2 separate regions of the Homo sapiens genome follow, and region 2 is linked to region 1. The links come from fine-mapping of genetic effects on gene expression. A gene starts in region 1. The other region holds a variant in brackets. All regions are shown on one strand. Distances are between the middles of the regions.

Region 1 (8,327 bases):
CCAGTTATCTGTCCCATGTGAGCACCCAGCAGAGCGCTGGGCAGGGCTGGGGCAGATTTCCCTCCAACCCTGGGGCAGAGACTTGAGAGGCAGAGGGCACACACTGCCTGCCCTGGATGGACAAGCCCTGGAGAGAGGGCCACACTGAGAGACGGCCAGCCCCCTGGAGAGCCCTTTCCCATGGAACTGGCTGGTATTACCAGGAATTGCTCCCGATCTTTGAATAGCTTCTCTAGTTCATCAACCCGCTGTAAAAGTACCTGGAAGAAGAGTTCAGGAAAGGAGAATGACAGTGGCCCCTACACACGCACACTCACATGCACACACACACAGATGCGCACACACACTCTCACACTCAGACACACACATGCATACACGCACATTCACACACTGACTCAGTGCCAGGAGACGAGGAAAGGGGGAATTTGTGTGGCTCTTATGGAAAGGGAGGGTTTCTTCTTCTACTTGGGTTTTTTTGGTTTCCTTTTTTTTTTTTTTTTGAGACAGGGTCTTGCTCTGTCACCCAAGCTGCAGTGCAGTGATGCCACCACAGCTCACTGCAGCCTCAACCTCTCAGGCTCAAGCGATCCTCCCACCTCAGCCTCCTGAGTAGCTGGGACTTCAGGCATGCACCACCACATCCAGCTAATTTTAAACATTTTTTTGTAGAGATAAGATCTTGCAATGTTGCCCAGGCTGGTCTTGAACTCCTGGGTCCGAGCAATCCTCCAGCCTCGGCCTCCCACAGTGCTGAGATTACAGGCAGGAGCCCCTGCTTTCTACCTGGTTTTTACCTGGCCAGTCAGCCCAGGCTCCTGGGTCTTTTCCCAGCCAAGTGCAGGAAGGGAAGTGAGATGCAGTGGGGGACCTGGCTGGTAGCATGGCAGGAGTAAGTGCTGCTGCAGGGATGGGACCCTTTGGTCCTGGGATTCAGTTTGCTCCAACCCACTTGTGAAAGCCTGTAGGATGAGGCCCACCTTGCCTTACAAGGAAGGAAGGGTGCCAGGTACCTCAACAGTAGCTGAACATCTGTGCTATCTAAAGAGAAAAGCACCTCAAAAGAACCAAAGCAAATCGCTACAACATAAGGTGCTATCATATTTGGGATTAAGAAAAAATATATTAATAAACAAAAATAAAACAAGTTACTTTTTATAACTTTTGCAAACTTCTAGAATCTAAGATTACGTAAAAATTAAAACAAAAGGCCAGGCGCAGTGGCTCTTGCCTGTAATCCCAACACTTTGGGAAGCCGAGGCAGGAGGATCACTTTAGGTCAGGAGTTCGAGACCAGCCTGGCCAACACGGCAAAACCCCATCTCTACTAAAAGTACAAAAGTTAGCTGGGCATGGTGGTGTGCACCTATAATCCTAGCTACTCGGGAAGCCGAGGCAGGAGAATTCCTTGAACCCAGGAGATGGAGTTGCAGTGAGCCGACAATGCACCACTGCACTCCAGCCTGGGTGACAGAGTGAGAATGTGTCTCAAAAAAAAAAAAAAAAAAAAAAAAACCCAAAAAAATTAAAACAAAAAAAACCCCCACCACACTTTAAAGTTTGAAAAGGAAAGCAGACATGCTTCCCAGAGCAAAAGTGAGTTGGTGCTGCGGTCTCGAGACCTGGGGTGATATGGCAGGAGGGCATGAGCGGCCAGGGCTCCCCTGCTGGGGCTTGGCCTCTTCTTCCTGCCTCTTCCCGGCCTCTTTTTCCCCTCCTGTCTCTCCTCTTGGCCTCCCCACCCAGCTGCCTTCCTAGTTGCTTCTGCTTTTTCTTTCAGAACCAACCTAAGGTGGCTCTGAGACATGCACGTGTCTATTACCTCCTGGCGCTGACCTGCGTTGCTTCCTGCTGTTCACTGGACAATACTTATACTCAATGATTACATGCATTTGTCCCTCCAAGAAAACAAAAGTCCAGTTGAAGGCAGGGCTCAGTGGCTCACGCCTGTAATGCCCAGCACTTTGGGAGGCCGAGGCGGGCAGATCACTTGAGGTCAGGAGTTTGAGACCAGCCCCGCCAACATGGTGAAACTCCTTCTCTACTAAAAACACAAATATTAGCCAGGCGGGGTGGCGCGCGCCTATAATCCCAGCTACTCGGGAGGCTGAGGCAGGAGAATCGCTTGAGTCTGGGAGGCGGAAGTTGCAGTGAGCCGAGACTGCACCACTGCATTTCAGCCTGGGTGATAGAGTGAGACTCCTTCTCAAAAAAAAAAAAAGTCCAAGTGAAACGGTCCCCTGCCTGCTGTGGCTTGTGTCATGGCCATAGGAAGCTGAGGTCCAACTCTCCATCCTGACTCCCCTTCTCTGGGAGCCTTTGTCCTCAACACGTATCTCTTCATGTCCTTATTCATTTTAAAAAGGGAATTCACTCTAAGAATCTTCTGAGAAGTTGCCGGCCCCACTCTGAGCCAGCTCTGGGTCCTTGGATGTCTGATAAGTGGTGGGCGAACCTCTCCCGTAAACAGGGGCTAGGAAGGAGGGGGTGGGATGGGGCCACTACACTTAGGAGGTGGGGTCCCCAGGCCCCTCCAGCTCGGGGAGGCCCTAGGCCTTTTGGTGGCGTTCTTTTAGGATTTTCACGTCTTGCAGCCCCGTGGACTGCAAGGTAGAGCATGGGCCACTCTATTTAGCCAGTCGCACTGAGGTCTGGCACCTCCTCGGTCCCCATCCCCTCCGTCCCCACCACCGCTCACCCCTCCAGGGTGGTGGGGACTCGGCTAGGCCTGGAGGGCGGCCTGGAGGAGGCAGACGGCCTGCGCGTGCCTCCGTGTGCGTGCTCACCCTGGCAAAGCTGAGCTCCTCGGCGGCGTCCTTCATGATACTCCCAGTCCGCACCCTATCGAACGCCCGCACGCCCACCTCCTGCTCCTCCGGCCACTCTAGCGCGGCCAGGTCAAGCCCGCTGGCCTGGGAGAAGTGCTGCACGTGCGTGGCGATGCCCTGCACCTGGCCGTCCACACGCTTGAGCTGCTTGCTCAGGTCCTCCACCTGGCCGCCCAGGTCCTTCACTTGGCTCTCCAGCGCTGACGAAGGCGCCTGGCCCACGCCCCTGCGCTTCTCCCGGGGCGCCCCCTTGGGCACCTCCTTGGGCGCGGGCAGGTGCGGGATGCTGAACGAGCTCCGGACGGACTGCAGCGAGCGGCTGGGCTCGGGCGACGAGGGCTGGAAGTCGATCCGGGTATTTTGGAGGTCGAGGTTCTTGAGCATGGCCACGATGAGCGTGTGCAGGGCCGTGAAGTTGACGGCGCCCACCTCTGGCGTGCCGATGGAGAGGTCCGCCAGCTCCCGGAGGGAGACCGTGGTCGCGGGCGGCATCGTGGCTGTCAGGAGCTGTGCGCCGCCGCGGGGCGCCGGCCAACCACTTCCCGCTCACTGCACGCCGCGCCTTGGGGCCTTTCGGGGGCCCTGCGAGGTCCTCGGGGCGCCCCTGCCCCGGGTCCGGCCGAGTCACTGGACAGAGCTCCTGCCTCCAGGGAATCTGCGCCTCCGCTCCCCGGCGGGGTCCGCGATGGCCACCCCTCCGCTGTCTGTCGCTGGCCTCGGGTCCCCGAGCTGGAGCCCTGGACTCCCAGTCCCCGCGCCGGCGGACGTTTGAAACGTGGGGGCCCCCGCGTGCCCTGAAGATTCCACGTAACAACACGCCTCCCTGCGAGCCACGGGGGCGGGGGGAAGTAAAGGCCACCACAAGGATCACAAGGGGAGCCTTGGCAACGGGCTGAGGAGGCCTCCTAAGATCCAGCTAGACTCCATCCATCCCCTTAACCTAGAAAGGCCAGGATTCACTCACTCTTGGCGGGGCCACATAAGGAAAGACTTGAGGGTTTCCTGGCAACCATGCTTTGTGTCATCAGCTGCGTCCATTCCAGAGTGGTGGCCCCATGTCTATGGCCCCATGTCTAAGGGATGCAGTCCTGGGGCCCTGGTCCCCTCAGACAGTCCACATATTTTGTTCAATCAAAGGTGAAGCAACTTGGAAAAGACAACCCACTCACTATTCAGGCAGTTCCAATTAGCCACTAGATGACTAACTGGTGGCTAATTGTCCCTTTTCTGTGCTGCCATAATTTTTTTTTTACTTTTGAGAGGGAGTCTTGCTCTGTCGCCCAGGCTGTAGTGCAATGGCACGATCTCGGCTCACTGCAACCTCTGCCTCCCGGGTTGACATGATTCTCCTGCCTCAGCCTCCCGAGTAGCTGGGATTACAGATGCGTGGTACCATGCCCGGCTAATTTTTTGTATTTTTAGCAGAGACGGGGTTTCACTATGTTGGCCAGGCTGGTCTTGAACTCCCGACCTCAAGTGATCGACCCACCTCGGCCTCCCAAAGTGCTGGGATTACAGGTGTAAGCCACCGCGCCCAGCCTGCCATAAATTAATTGATCTCAAAAAAACGGCCAGGCTTGGTGGCTCACACCTGTAATCCCAGCACTTTGGGAGGCCGAGGCGGGTGGATCACCTGAGGTAAGGGGTTCAAGGCCAGCCTAGCCAACATAGTGAAACCCCTCTGCTAAAAATACAAAAAATTAGCCGGGCATGGTACCGCGCATCTGTAATCCCAGCTACTCGGGAGGCTGAGGCAGGAGAATCGCGTCAACCCGGGAGGCAGAGGTTGCAGTGAGCCAAGATCGCACCACTGCACCCCAGCCTGGGCGACAGTGCAAGACTCTGTCTCAAAAAAAAAAAAAAAGAAAAGAAAAGAAACCACTCACCTGGTCAAGCGCCTGTGCTTGAGCTCATTACAAAGCAGGATTAAACAGCACGAGACAAATCTGGTGTTAACAATTGAGACATGACTTCCCCATACAAGATTCTTCCCAAAAACGTATAAATAAAACTTCCTAACAGAAGCACAGCAAGGCTACTTAAAGAGAACCTATGAATGTGTGCCATGCATGGCCAGCCTCCTCCGTGAGCTCTGCATCTGCAGATTTAACCAACCACGACTGAACACGTACAGATTCCTGTCATGATTCTCTAAATAATACAGCATGACCACCATCTACACAGGATATTGCAGTAGGTATTACAAGTCATCCAGGATGTGCATAGCTTATATGCAGATACTACACCATTTTCTATCAGGGACTTGCACATCCATGGGCAGGAGGTTGAGTCCTGGAACCAATCACCCATGGATTGTAAGGAATAACTGTACTATTTTAACTACTGTTCAAGTTCAGATTTTTCACTTCAGCCTGAGAGGTACTGTTTATTTAATTGAAGGATTTTCGATCATCATTATATTCCAATAACTTGGGACACAGTAGGCCTTTAAGGGGTTATCAAAATAACTAGTTCTTTGCAGTCTTTTTTTTTTTTTGAGATGGAATCTTGCTCTGTCACTTGGGCTGGAGTGCAGTGGCACAATCTCAGCTCACTGCAATCTCTGCCTCTTGGGTTCAACCAATTAATTCTCCTGCCTCAGCCTCCCGAGTAGCTGGGATTACAGGCGTGCACCCCCTCCCCCAACACCCGGCTAATTTTTGTATTTTTAGTAGGGACAGGGTTTCACCATATTGGCCAGGCTGGTCTCAAACTCCTGACCTCAAGTGATCTGCCCACCTCGGCCTCCCAAAGTGCTGGGATTACAGGCGTGAGCCATGATGCCTGGCCTCTTTGTAGTCTTTTTATGCTTTTAACTTAGCTAGGCTAATTTTTGTATTTTTAGTAGAGACGGGGTTTTGCCATGTTGGCCAGGCTGGTCTCAAACTCCTGACCTCAGGTGATCTACCTGCCTCGGCCTCCCAAAGTGCAGGGATTACAGGCATAAGACACGATCCCTGGCCTGTTTTTTTTTTTTGAGACAGGGTGTTGCTCTGTCACCCAGGATGGATGGCAGTGGTACAATCATAGTTCACTGCAGCTTCAACCTCCTTGGCTCAGGCAATCCTCCCACCTCAGCCTCCCAAGGTAGCTGGAACTACAGGCACATGCTACCAATGCCTGGCTAATTTTTGTATTTTTTGTAGACATGGGGGTTTCGCCATGTTTCCCAGGCTGGTCTGAAACTCCTGGGCTCAAGCAATCCTCCTTGCCTCAGCCTCCCAAAGTACTCAGATTATAGGTGTGAGCCACCACACCTAGACTTTTTTTTTTTTTTTTTAAAGATTTAAAATACAGTATTCAACAAGGATTTAGCTTCAACACTTAGGAAGAGGGTGGAACCTGGGAAAGTGTTTGTGTCCAGCCACAGACCTGACTGCTGTTCTGTATCCATGGTCTTCTGCTGTCTAATGAAAAGACTAGCAAGACAACAAATTATTTTATTTGCAACTTCAGAGCCACTCAGATACCCAGAGGTGGGATGCTATTTTCTAATCTGACATCCTTGGAAGATGTAACAACATGAATGCTTCATTTTTCAATGGCTGTAGGCATAACAATTTCTGAAAGAAAAATACGATTCTCTATAAAAGACTTGAAGTTGATTTGGGAGAGGCCAACTGGATAGTAATAGGGCCACAGGCGCTCAGCTTCCCTAACCAGGTTCAACATCAATACCTCCATTTCCCTGGAGCTGAAACAACTAAATGAACATTATAGAGTTAAGACTTTATGTGCCTTTAACTCCTCTTTAGTATCAATAAGATTTTCAGATTATTTTTAAGAAAGCAGCTAGAACTTTTAAGGAACAGGGCTGATGACAGCAGACATGTAAGGCCATGTTATGATATTTATCCATTAGCTCTGTCTTCTTCCTGACTCTTTTAATCCCTCCTCCCCATCAATCCGGGCAAAAGAAGATATCTAACTCCAGGCTGTTTCGAGTCCTCCCTTGCAAGGAAACACTGTATCACTCATGGCACTGCTTTTTCCATGTTTCCCTCAGGAGGTCCAGGGTCGAGACCCTCGTGAAAGCTAGTCATCCACAGTGATGTTTCGGAAAAGGTAGGCCATGGACTCTCCATTGTGGATTCTCCGAATGGCTTCAGAAAGAATCAAACTGATATCCACAGTCTTTATCTTGGGACATTGCAGCTTCTGAACCTCATGAGGGACAGTATTCGTCACCACCACCTAGTCACACAGTGATGGAAAACAAACGCTGTTACTGAAGTCTGTTCTCCAAGCTGGTTACACAGAAAAGCTTATCTAACATTGAGTTCCCACAGCCTAAGTTCCAAACTACAAAACCTTGTTCCACCGAGTATAGTTTTTATAAACCAAAATTAACTAATTTTATGCAAAGGAAAAGTTACATGGCCTCAGAACACAAGACAAAAATCTTAGGAATGGCATGGTCTCCATGCAGAAACACAGTGAGCCCCAGTGCTATGCAAAACTCTCAGATCATAAGGGAAGAATTCCAGCCTCAAGAGAAATGCTCCTAGGGTGTCAAATTAAAGTACCCAAGCAAACCGTTATGCAAATAGACATATACAGACCCTCAACATAACTCTCAACTTATGACAGGGTTATGTCTGGATAAACGCATCATTATAAGTTGAAAATATTTTAAGTAGAAAATGCATTTAGGCCGGGCACAGTGGCTCATGCTTGTAATCCTAGCACTTTGGGAGGCCGAGGCAGGTGGATCACCTGAGGTCAGGAGTTTGAGACCAGCCTGGCCAACATGGTGAAACCCCGTTTCTAAGAAAAACACAAAAATTAGGCCTGGTGGCCGGCGCGTGTAATCCCAGTTACTTGGGAGACTGAGACAGGAGAATCGTTTGAACCCGGGAGGCAGAGGTTGCAGTGAGCCGAGATTGCCACACTGCACTCCCAGCCTAGGCAACAGAGCAAGATTCCATCTCAAAAAAAAAAAAAAGCATTTAATACGCCTAACCTACTAAACATCATTAACTTGGCCTAGCCCTACCTTAAACATGCCCAGAACAGTTACATTAGACTGCAGGTGGCAAAATCATCTAGGGCAAAGGCTTTCATTTTATAATAAAAGCGATTATTTTAAAATAAAGTGTCTCAAGTAATTTATCGAATACTATACATTACATCGTAATTGCAATGGTTTTGCATCATCATAAAGTCAAAAACTTCTAAGTTGAACCATGGTAAGTCGTGGACTATCTGTATTCCTAAACATGTATCTGTCCCAACGAACTGCTAGCCAGCAAAAGCTAGAAAAGCTATAGACAGATTAAGCAATTTAGTATTGACTGAATCATTTTATTATTCCCAGAAAACACAGCAGTAAATCTTGGCTCAAGATTTAGAAGCAGCCTGACCTCGTCTACGGAGGACTCCTCAATCAGGCGAGGGGCCTCTGCAGACAGGATGCCGTGGGTGGCCATAACATAGATCTTATAGGCGCCTCTCTCTTTCAGGATCTCCGCGGCAGCAACAAAACTCTCCACATCGTCAATA
Region 2 (8,327 bases), 62 kb after region 1:
AATCTGAGGGGGTGGTGGGAACCCCTGAATTTGAGGCCATCTGGTCAAAAGTGAGGACCCTGAACTTGCAGCTGGTGTCTGAAGTGAGGGCTGTCCTGTGGAGGAAGGCATCACCTGAGGCCCAACCCCAGGTAGTTGGTGTCAAATGTCATTGCACCTGCCCTGAAAGAAAGAGGGAGAGAAGTGAGGGAAGGGGCCACCTTTTGGGGAGAGCTGGTGTCTGTGAGAAAAGGCCTCAATCTTTTTTTTTTTTGAGATGGAGTTTCGCTCTTTCGCCCAGGCTGGAAAGAAGTGGCGTGATCTCAGCTCACTGCAACCTCCAACCCCCAGGTTCAAGTGATTCTCCTGCTCATCCTCCCGGGTAGCTGGGATTATAGGCGCCTGCCACCACACCTGGCTAATATTTGTATTTTTAGTAGAGACGGGGTTTCACCATGTTGGTCAGGCTGGTCTCGAACTTCTGACCTCAGGTGATCCACCCACCTTGACCTCCCAAAGTGCTGGGATTACAGACGTGAGCCACCCCGCCCAGCCCCTCATTTTTCTCTTTCTCTCTCTCACCTGACCTCAGGTGATCTGCCTGCCTCGGCTTCCCAAAGTACTAGGATTACAAGTGTGAGCCATGCCTGAGCAAGCCTCACTCTTTTTTTTTTTTCTTTTGAGACAGAGTCTCGGTCTGTCACCCAGGCTGGGGTGCAATGGCGCGATCTCGACTCACTGCAACCTCCGCCTCCCGGGTTCAAGTGATTCTCCTGCCTTAGCCTCCTGAACAGCTGGGATTACAGGTGCCTGCCACGACACCCAACTAATTTTTGTATTTTTCGTAGAGACGGGGTTTCACCATGTTGGTCAGGCTGGTCTCCAACTCCTGATCTCAAGTGATCTGTCTGCCTCGGCCTCCCAAAGTGCTGGGATTACAGGCGTTAGCCACCGTGCCCGGCCAAGCCTCACTCTTTTGAGAGGACTTGACTGGTTTCTCTTGAAACCAGATGGAGGTTGTAGGGGTTGGGGACACAGTGGAATCACTGTCTGTCAAGTGTGTGGGAGGGCAGGGAAGCACACCTGTGTTCCTGCTGGCTGTCTTGGCTGTGCATTGGCTGCTCTGCCCTGGGGCTCCTGAGGTTTGGAAAGCACTGAGGGCTGGGACCACCCATCCCTTCAGGAGACGTTTTTGTTTGTTTGTTTGTTTTTTGAGACCAGTCTCGCTCTGTAGCTCAGGCTGGAGTGCAGTGGCACAATCTCGGCTCACTGCAACCTCCACTGGAGGGGTTCAGTCAGGATGGTGGGAGAAATTGTAAAATAAACACAAACTTTCTTGGAAGGCCTGAAGGTTTTTGCAAAAGCCTCAAAATAGAGTTATGGCTGAAGGCAGCCTAATCCTCTTTGAGTTATAGCAAGGGTAATTAACACAGGAATGTAGAGGAGTCTATCTAAATAGCTTGTTTACCCACGTGGTCCTAAGACTAACCTTTGACCATCCATGGGTGCAAGATTGCTGTCTACCTGGGGGGTGAGCAATGGTAATTACCTTCTAGTGGTGTTTACTTGAGACGTTTGTCATTTAATGTGTGCTGAACAAATGCCAGCAGGGCCAGCCAGTCGAGGCCATGGCTGCTATTCTTTACAGCACCTTCCTTGGTGTCTGTGAGGGGCCCAGACCCTTAGCTGGACTGACAAGCAGAATATCTGTGTCAGTGTAAGTTATTCATCCGTCGTTGGGTCAGGATCTGCGGGACGGACTCCCCCCACCCCCGCACTGTACCTCCCAGGTTCAAATGATTCTCCTGCCTCAGCCTCCTAAGTAGCTGGGATTACAGGTGTGGGCCACGACACGTGGCTAATTTTTGTATTTTTAGTAGAGACAGGTTTTCACCATGTTGGTCAGGCTGGTCTTGAACTCCTGACCTCAAATGATCTGCCCATCTCGGCCTCCCAAAGTGCTGGGATTACAGGCGTGAGCCACCGCACCTGGTCCCCTTCAGAAGATGGATGCTGAACCTAAGGGCCCAGAGTCAAGTCTAGAGTATGGTCGAGTCCAGAGTATGGGAATCCCAGTCCTGCGGATTACGGGACTGGGAGTGGGGGTACCCTCTCAGAGCAATATGGCATGAGGCCACCTCCTGGAGTCAGCAGAACGTGTCACCCAGGGGAGCCGCTTAGGAGACCGCCTCTCATCAGCAGGCCTGAGCAGCTGTCCCTTGGCCACACCAAATCAGTAGAGCCCTGGTTCTCAGTCAGTGGCAAGTGTGTCCCGCAGGGGCATTTGGCAAGGTCCGGAGACATTTTTGGTTGTCACAACTTGGGGGCTGCTACTGGCATCTGGTGAGCAGAAGCCAGGGACGCTGAGGAACAGTGCACTGACAGGCCCCTGCCGCAGAGAATGAGCCAGCCCCAAACATCAACAGTGCTGAGCTTGAGAAAGCCTGGTCTCTGCAACAAAGCCCCCAGCAAGGGGAAAGCAGCGCCACCACCCATCAGGCCCTGCGGGAATCACATCTGCTTTCAATTTCTCTCCTTCCTGCCGCAGCCTCACAGAATCAGCACAGGGATGGGGCGGTGGGGGAAGAGACGTGCCGTGTCTTCACCCCAGTGTTGGCGCCTGTGCTGGGAAGGGATGAGGGTCTTTTGAGGCAGGATTGACTTTTTTTTTCATTTTTTTTTTTTTTTTTGAGACAGTCTCACTCTGTCGCTCAGGCTAGAGTGCAGTGGTGCGATCTTGGCTCACTGCAACCTCCATCTCTCTGGTTCAAGCGATTCTCATGCTTCAGCCTCCTGAGTAGCTGGGATTACAGGTATGCACCTCCACACCCTGTGCTAATTTTTGTATTTTGAGTAGTGATGGGGTTTCACCATGTTGGCCAGGCTGGTCTCGAACTCCTGACCTCAAGTGATCTGCCCACCTTGGCTTCCCAAAGTGCTGGAATTACAGGCGTGAGCCACTGCGCCCGGCACTAGGCTGTCTTAATAGCAAAACATGGCTAGAAAAATGTGGAATCATACTGAGTGCCCTCGTGGGGAATCTTATGCTCAGTGGAAATGGAGATTTCGAACAAACAGAGCTGGTGGTGTTTATCAGAGAAAATTAAACCTTTTGTTAATGTTCACTTTAACAGGACATGTGTCCTTCATGAAACTGGCTACATATGTGCATCGCTTAGCCCGGGGCCGGCACAAAACAAGAGCTGGATAAACGTTAGCCGCTTGTATTGAGAGGGAAGTGAGCCGGTGGTGGTGCTGCATGCCTGTAGTCCCAACTGCTTGGGAAGTGAGGCAGGAAGATTGCTTTAGCCCCAGGAGTTAGAGGTTACGGTGAACTAAGACTGCGCCACTGCACTCTAGCCTGGGCGACACAGCATGAACTGCTCTTCAAAAGGCGGTGGGGATTCTAACTCCTGTCCCTGGAATCTGGGTTGGTCTCAGTGACTTGCTTGACCAAAAAGTGGTAGAAGGGACATTCTGGGATGTCTGAGGCTCAGGCATGAAAAGCCTTGCAGCTTCGGCCTGGGTCTCCTGGACTGACTACTCCTGGGACATTCCCTCCTGGAGCCCTGCCGCCATGTCACACAAGGGGCCACACTCTGGCCAGCAGCCCCAGCTGAGCTGACAGCTGACAGCCAGCGCCTGTTATCATCGCCATGGTAAGGAGCTGTCTCAGATGTTTAGCCCCGCTGACGCTGCAACCACCGGAGACTCCAAGTGAGGACCACCCAGCTGAGACCCATCAGCCGGCAGCCCACAGTGGGGGTTAGTAAATTACTGCTTCAGGCCACTGCACTTTAGGATGGTTCACTACTCAGAAGCAGATAATGTGAACACTTCCCCAGGGAGTCAAGTGCTTTCAGAAACATATGCTGTTTTCTTGGATGAAAAATTGTCTTTCTAGTGATTATCCAGGAAGGGTTCACACAAATGGGATATCAGGGCTGGTGGAAAGACACGAGTCGGACACCGTTATGAGCCCAAGTTCCAGACTGTGCATAGAGCCAACTCCTAAGCCAGGTAGCCTTGACCTGAGAGCTTCCCAGCACCTCCTTCCCCTTCCCCACTGACCCATGGCTTCCTCCTTCATTCTCCTCTTCTCATCATTCCTTTCCCATTCCTTCACACATTTCAAGCTGCTATTCCAAAACTACCACCATGGAAACACGGTCAGGTTCTTAGAAACCTAACCCATATTGGGAAATAACAGTGCGGCGAGAGGTGGAGGCAGCAGGAAAATTCTAGGCTAACATCCTAGCTGGCCACCAGGGTGCGGTCTCAAAGTCCTCATGGTAGGAAGGTAAGTTTATCTTCATTTTACACACTAGGGAAAATAGACTCCCTCAGTAATTAAATACCAATTAGCTCTTAAGAAAAATGCATTTTCAAAATTGTATTACTGTTCAACAGGGAAATAGGATTTAATTTAGCTTTTTTTTTTTTTTAATTCACAAGAGCGCCTGCTTTGACACCACCTAGCGGGAGCCACTGTAGGAACGGCAAAGCCAGGCCTGACCCCGCTTCTCGTAGAGCCTGGGTGGCAGCCAGTGCTGTCACTGTTCCCACATTCCCACGCCGGTGTCTGGGAGGATGTGGGGAGAGATTATAATAGTA[T/C]GTGTCATTTCTGCAGTATGCCTGATTCATTTCCAGATGTGAAATAGTCACTGGGATCACTATAGTTCCTAATGCCTTTCTTTTTTTTTTCTTTTTTTGAGACAGAGTTTTGCTCTTGTCACCCAGGCTGGAGTGCAGCGGTGCGACCTCAGCTGACTGCAGCCTCCGCCTCCTGGATTCAGGCAATTCTCCTGCATCAGCCTCCCAAATAGCAGGGATTACAGGCGCCCACCACCATGCTCGTCTAAGTTTTGTATTTTCAGTAGAGATGAGGTTTCGCCATGTTGGCCAGGCTGGTCTCGAACTCCCGATCGCAAGTGATCCGCCCGCCTCAGCCTCCCAAAGTGTTGGGATTACAGGTGTGAGCCACCGTGCACGGCCTAATGCCTTTCAAGAAGTTTTCTGTGGCAATTACACAAATCTCCCTGAATCCTTATTTAGTTTGTTCATCTACTTGGAAAACAGCCTTCCTTTATACTAAGTCAGTAGTTCCCAAACTTGTCTGTACCTTAGAATCACTGGGGAACTCTGGAAAATTCCAGACCAGGCTGGGTACAGTGGCTCATGCCTATAATCCCAGTACTTTGGGAAGCTGTAGTGGGAGGATCACTTGAGCTCAAGAGTGGCCAGCCTGGGCCACATAGTGAGACTCTGTCTCTACCAAAAAAAAAAAAAAAAAAAAAAAATTGGGCACAGTGGCATGCCCCTGTGGTCCTAGCTACTCGGGAAGCTGAGGTGGGAGGATTGCTTGAGCCCAGGAGGTTGAGGCTGTAGTGAGCTGTGTTTGTGCCTCTGCACTCCCACCTGGGTGACAGAGACCCTGTCTCAAAAAAAAAAAAAAAAAAAAAAAAGAAAGAAAGAAAATGAAAAATTCCAGAGCAGTGAGTGAAGTCATAGTCATTGGCAGTGGGGCACAGGCTCTGCAGGTGATTCCTACGTGCTCCCTAGTTGGAAACCTCAGTGCTAAATGACCCCAGAAGTAGATGCGGCCCTCAGCCATTCCCTAGGCAGGCACCCTTGTGTGCATCTGTTGCCTTCTCTCCAGAAAGCAGCTTTTCTTAAGGGATAGCCCGAGGCCAAACTCAGGAGTCCTCTTAGTACTTACCACATCCGAGCGTGGTGGCACGCGCCTGTAGTCCCAGCTACTGGGGAGGCTGAGGCAGGAAAATCACTTGAACCAGAGAGACGGAGGTTGCAGCGAGCCAAGATTCCTTTTTAAATAGCGGACATTTTAAATAATAATAATAAAAAGAAAAATAAATAATCTGTGGTGAAATTCACATAACATCTTAAAGTGCATAATCAGTGGCATTAAGTACACTCACAACGTTGTGAAACCACTACGTCTATGTAGTTCCAAAACATCTTCATCACCCCAAAAGGAAATCCCATGCCCAGTAAGCAGTTCTACCTCATTCTCCCTCTCCCCAGAGTCTCTGGCAACCACCAACCTGCCTTCTGTCTACAAATTTGCTTATTCTGGACATTTCGTAGAAATTGACTCATACAATAGGTGACCTTTTGCATCTGGACTCTCACTCTGCGTCATGTTTTCGAAGTTCATTCACGCTGTAGCATGTGTCAGGACCTCATTCCCTTCTATGGACAAATAATATTCCATTGTGTGACTAGGCCACATTTTCTTTATCCAGTCATCCATCAACATTTGGGTTGTTTCCACCTCTTGACTATTGTGAATAATGCTTCTATGAACATTCCTGGATGAGTTTTTGTGTGGACATGTTTTTATCTCTCTTAGGTACAGACCAGAACTAGAAGTGGAATTACTAGGTCATATAGTAACCCTATGCTTAATTTTTTAAGGAATCTGAGTCTCTCATTCTAAAAGACATTTTTCTCAAGCACCGGTTGGTAAATCTGGCTTAGTTTTCCACATCTGTGAAGACCATTTTCATGGGTGACATGCCAGCCTTCCTTGAGCATACGTGACACGCAGGCTGTTGGTTTAGAACTAGAATTAGGTTCCTGCTGTTCTGCTCAGGGTCCTTGCAGATGAGAAACCCCTGCCACACTGCCCTCCTGCAGCAGCCGTCACCCAGACAGCCACCCAACCATGCTTCTTTTTTTTTTTTTTCTGAGACGGAGTCTCGCTCTGCTGCCCAGGCTGGAGTGCAGTGGCACGATCTCGGCTCACCACAAACTCCACCTTCCAGGTTCAAGCAATTCTCCTGCCTCAGCCTCCCAAGAGGCTGGGACTACAGGCGCGCACCACTATGCCCAGCTAATTTTTGTATTTTTAGTACAGATGGGGTTTCACCATGTTGGCCAGGCTGGTCTCGAACTCCTGAGCTCGTCATCTGCCCGCCTTGGCCTCCCAAAGTGCTGGGATTACAGTCGCGAGCCACCGCGCCCGGCTCCAAGCATGCTTTTAAAAACTAAATTGATCAGGTGTGACTCATGCCTGTAATCCCAGCACTTTGGGAGGCCGAGGTGTGCAGATTGCTTGAGTCCAGGAGTTTGAGACTAGTCTGGGTAACAGAGTGAGACCCAGTCTCTAGAAAAAATACAAAATAAAAAAAAAAGTAGCTGGGGGTTGTGGTGCGTGACTGTAGTCCCAGCTACTCAGGAAGCTGAGGTGGAAGGATTGCTTGGGCCCAGGAGGTGGAAGTTGCAGTGAGCTGGGATAGCGCTACTGCACTCCAGCCTGGGTGACAGAGTGAGACCCCATCCGGAAGAAAAAAAAAAAAAGATTTGAGGCGGAGGTTGCAGTGAGCTGAGATGGCGCCACTGCACTCCAGCCTGGGGTGACAGAGCAAGACCCTGTCTCAAAAAAAAAAAAAAAAAAAGACTCAGGCCTCCGAGACAAGCACGCTCTTCAGCGTCCTGGGCTTTGCTGTGGCTCCTGGCTCCCGCTCAGCCTTTCCCAGGCGGCATGCTCCTATACCACTAAAGGCTGCAAATTGAGGTGACAGATCTGCTAGTGGGACTGCACATGCCTCTTCCCTCAGGAATGACACGCCTGCCAAGAGCTGAAAGGAGGCAGAGCCAACCCTGAGTTTATCATCTTTTGCAGTTATTGAGTGTTTTCTTTCTTTAGAAGCTCAAAATTCTCAATCTGAGAGTCAAGTAATGGCAGATACTTGTCACACGGCAATTGGAATCGGAACTCGGTCTTTTTTTTTTTAGGCGGAGTTTCGCTCTTGTTGCCCAGGCTGGAGTGCAGTGGCGCAACCTCAGCTCACTGCAACCTCCGCTTCCCGGGTTCAAGCAATTCTCCTGCCTCAGCCTCCTGAGTAGCTGGGATTACAGGCATGTGACACCACGCCCAGCTAATTTTGTATTTTTAGTAGAGACGGGGTTTCACCATGTTGGTCAGGCTGGTCTCAAACTCCTGATCTCAGGTGATCCGCCCGCCTCAGCCTCCCAAGATGCTGGGATTATAGGCGTGTGCCACTGAACCCAGTCTTAAATGGTTTGTGCTTGTTTGCAAATGCCGCACGTCCTGATGCTATAGATTTTTCTAGGCCATGCAGAGTCACGAAGACTGATGTGTCTTTTTAACTCTGCATTGGGACCATCTGTACCTCAAGGGACCCATCAGCCTGCTGTGCCCAGCCAGGAGGAGGTGGAGTGTTGGACGGTGCCTTTCCTGGCCCTCCATTGCTGCAATGCACCCGGCTCCCTCCCTGGGGTGCCGTGCTGCATCTGCCAGCGATTCCAATGGGAGAGGTCTGCCTGCGGGCATTTCTTGAGGATTTTTGTGTGCAGAACCT

The links. PIP is the estimated chance that this variant, and not a neighbour inherited with it, causes the effect.
Region 2: its variant is fine-mapped to the expression of QRICH2 in fibroblasts (GTEx, PIP 0.93).

Annotation. Positions count from the first base shown.
Region 1 is chr17:76,304,682-76,313,008 of GRCh38, forward strand. QRICH2 (glutamine rich 2) reads right to left here and starts at 3,595. Exons shown (of 19, transcript NM_001388453.1): 1 at 2,784-3,595; 2 at 201-260. The coding sequence starts at 3,317. PRPSAP1 (phosphoribosyl pyrophosphate synthetase associated protein 1) reads right to left here. Exons shown (of 10, transcript NM_002766.3): 9 at 8,189-8,327; 10 at 4,797-7,019. The coding sequence ends at 6,861.
Region 2 is chr17:76,366,306-76,374,632 of GRCh38, forward strand. No RefSeq gene overlaps it. Among named protein-coding and RNA genes, the nearest start is that of SPHK1, 14 kb to the right of the region's middle. RefSeq lists enhancers at 1,848-2,348, 2,349-2,849. The variant T/C (reference allele first, on the strand shown) is at 4,594.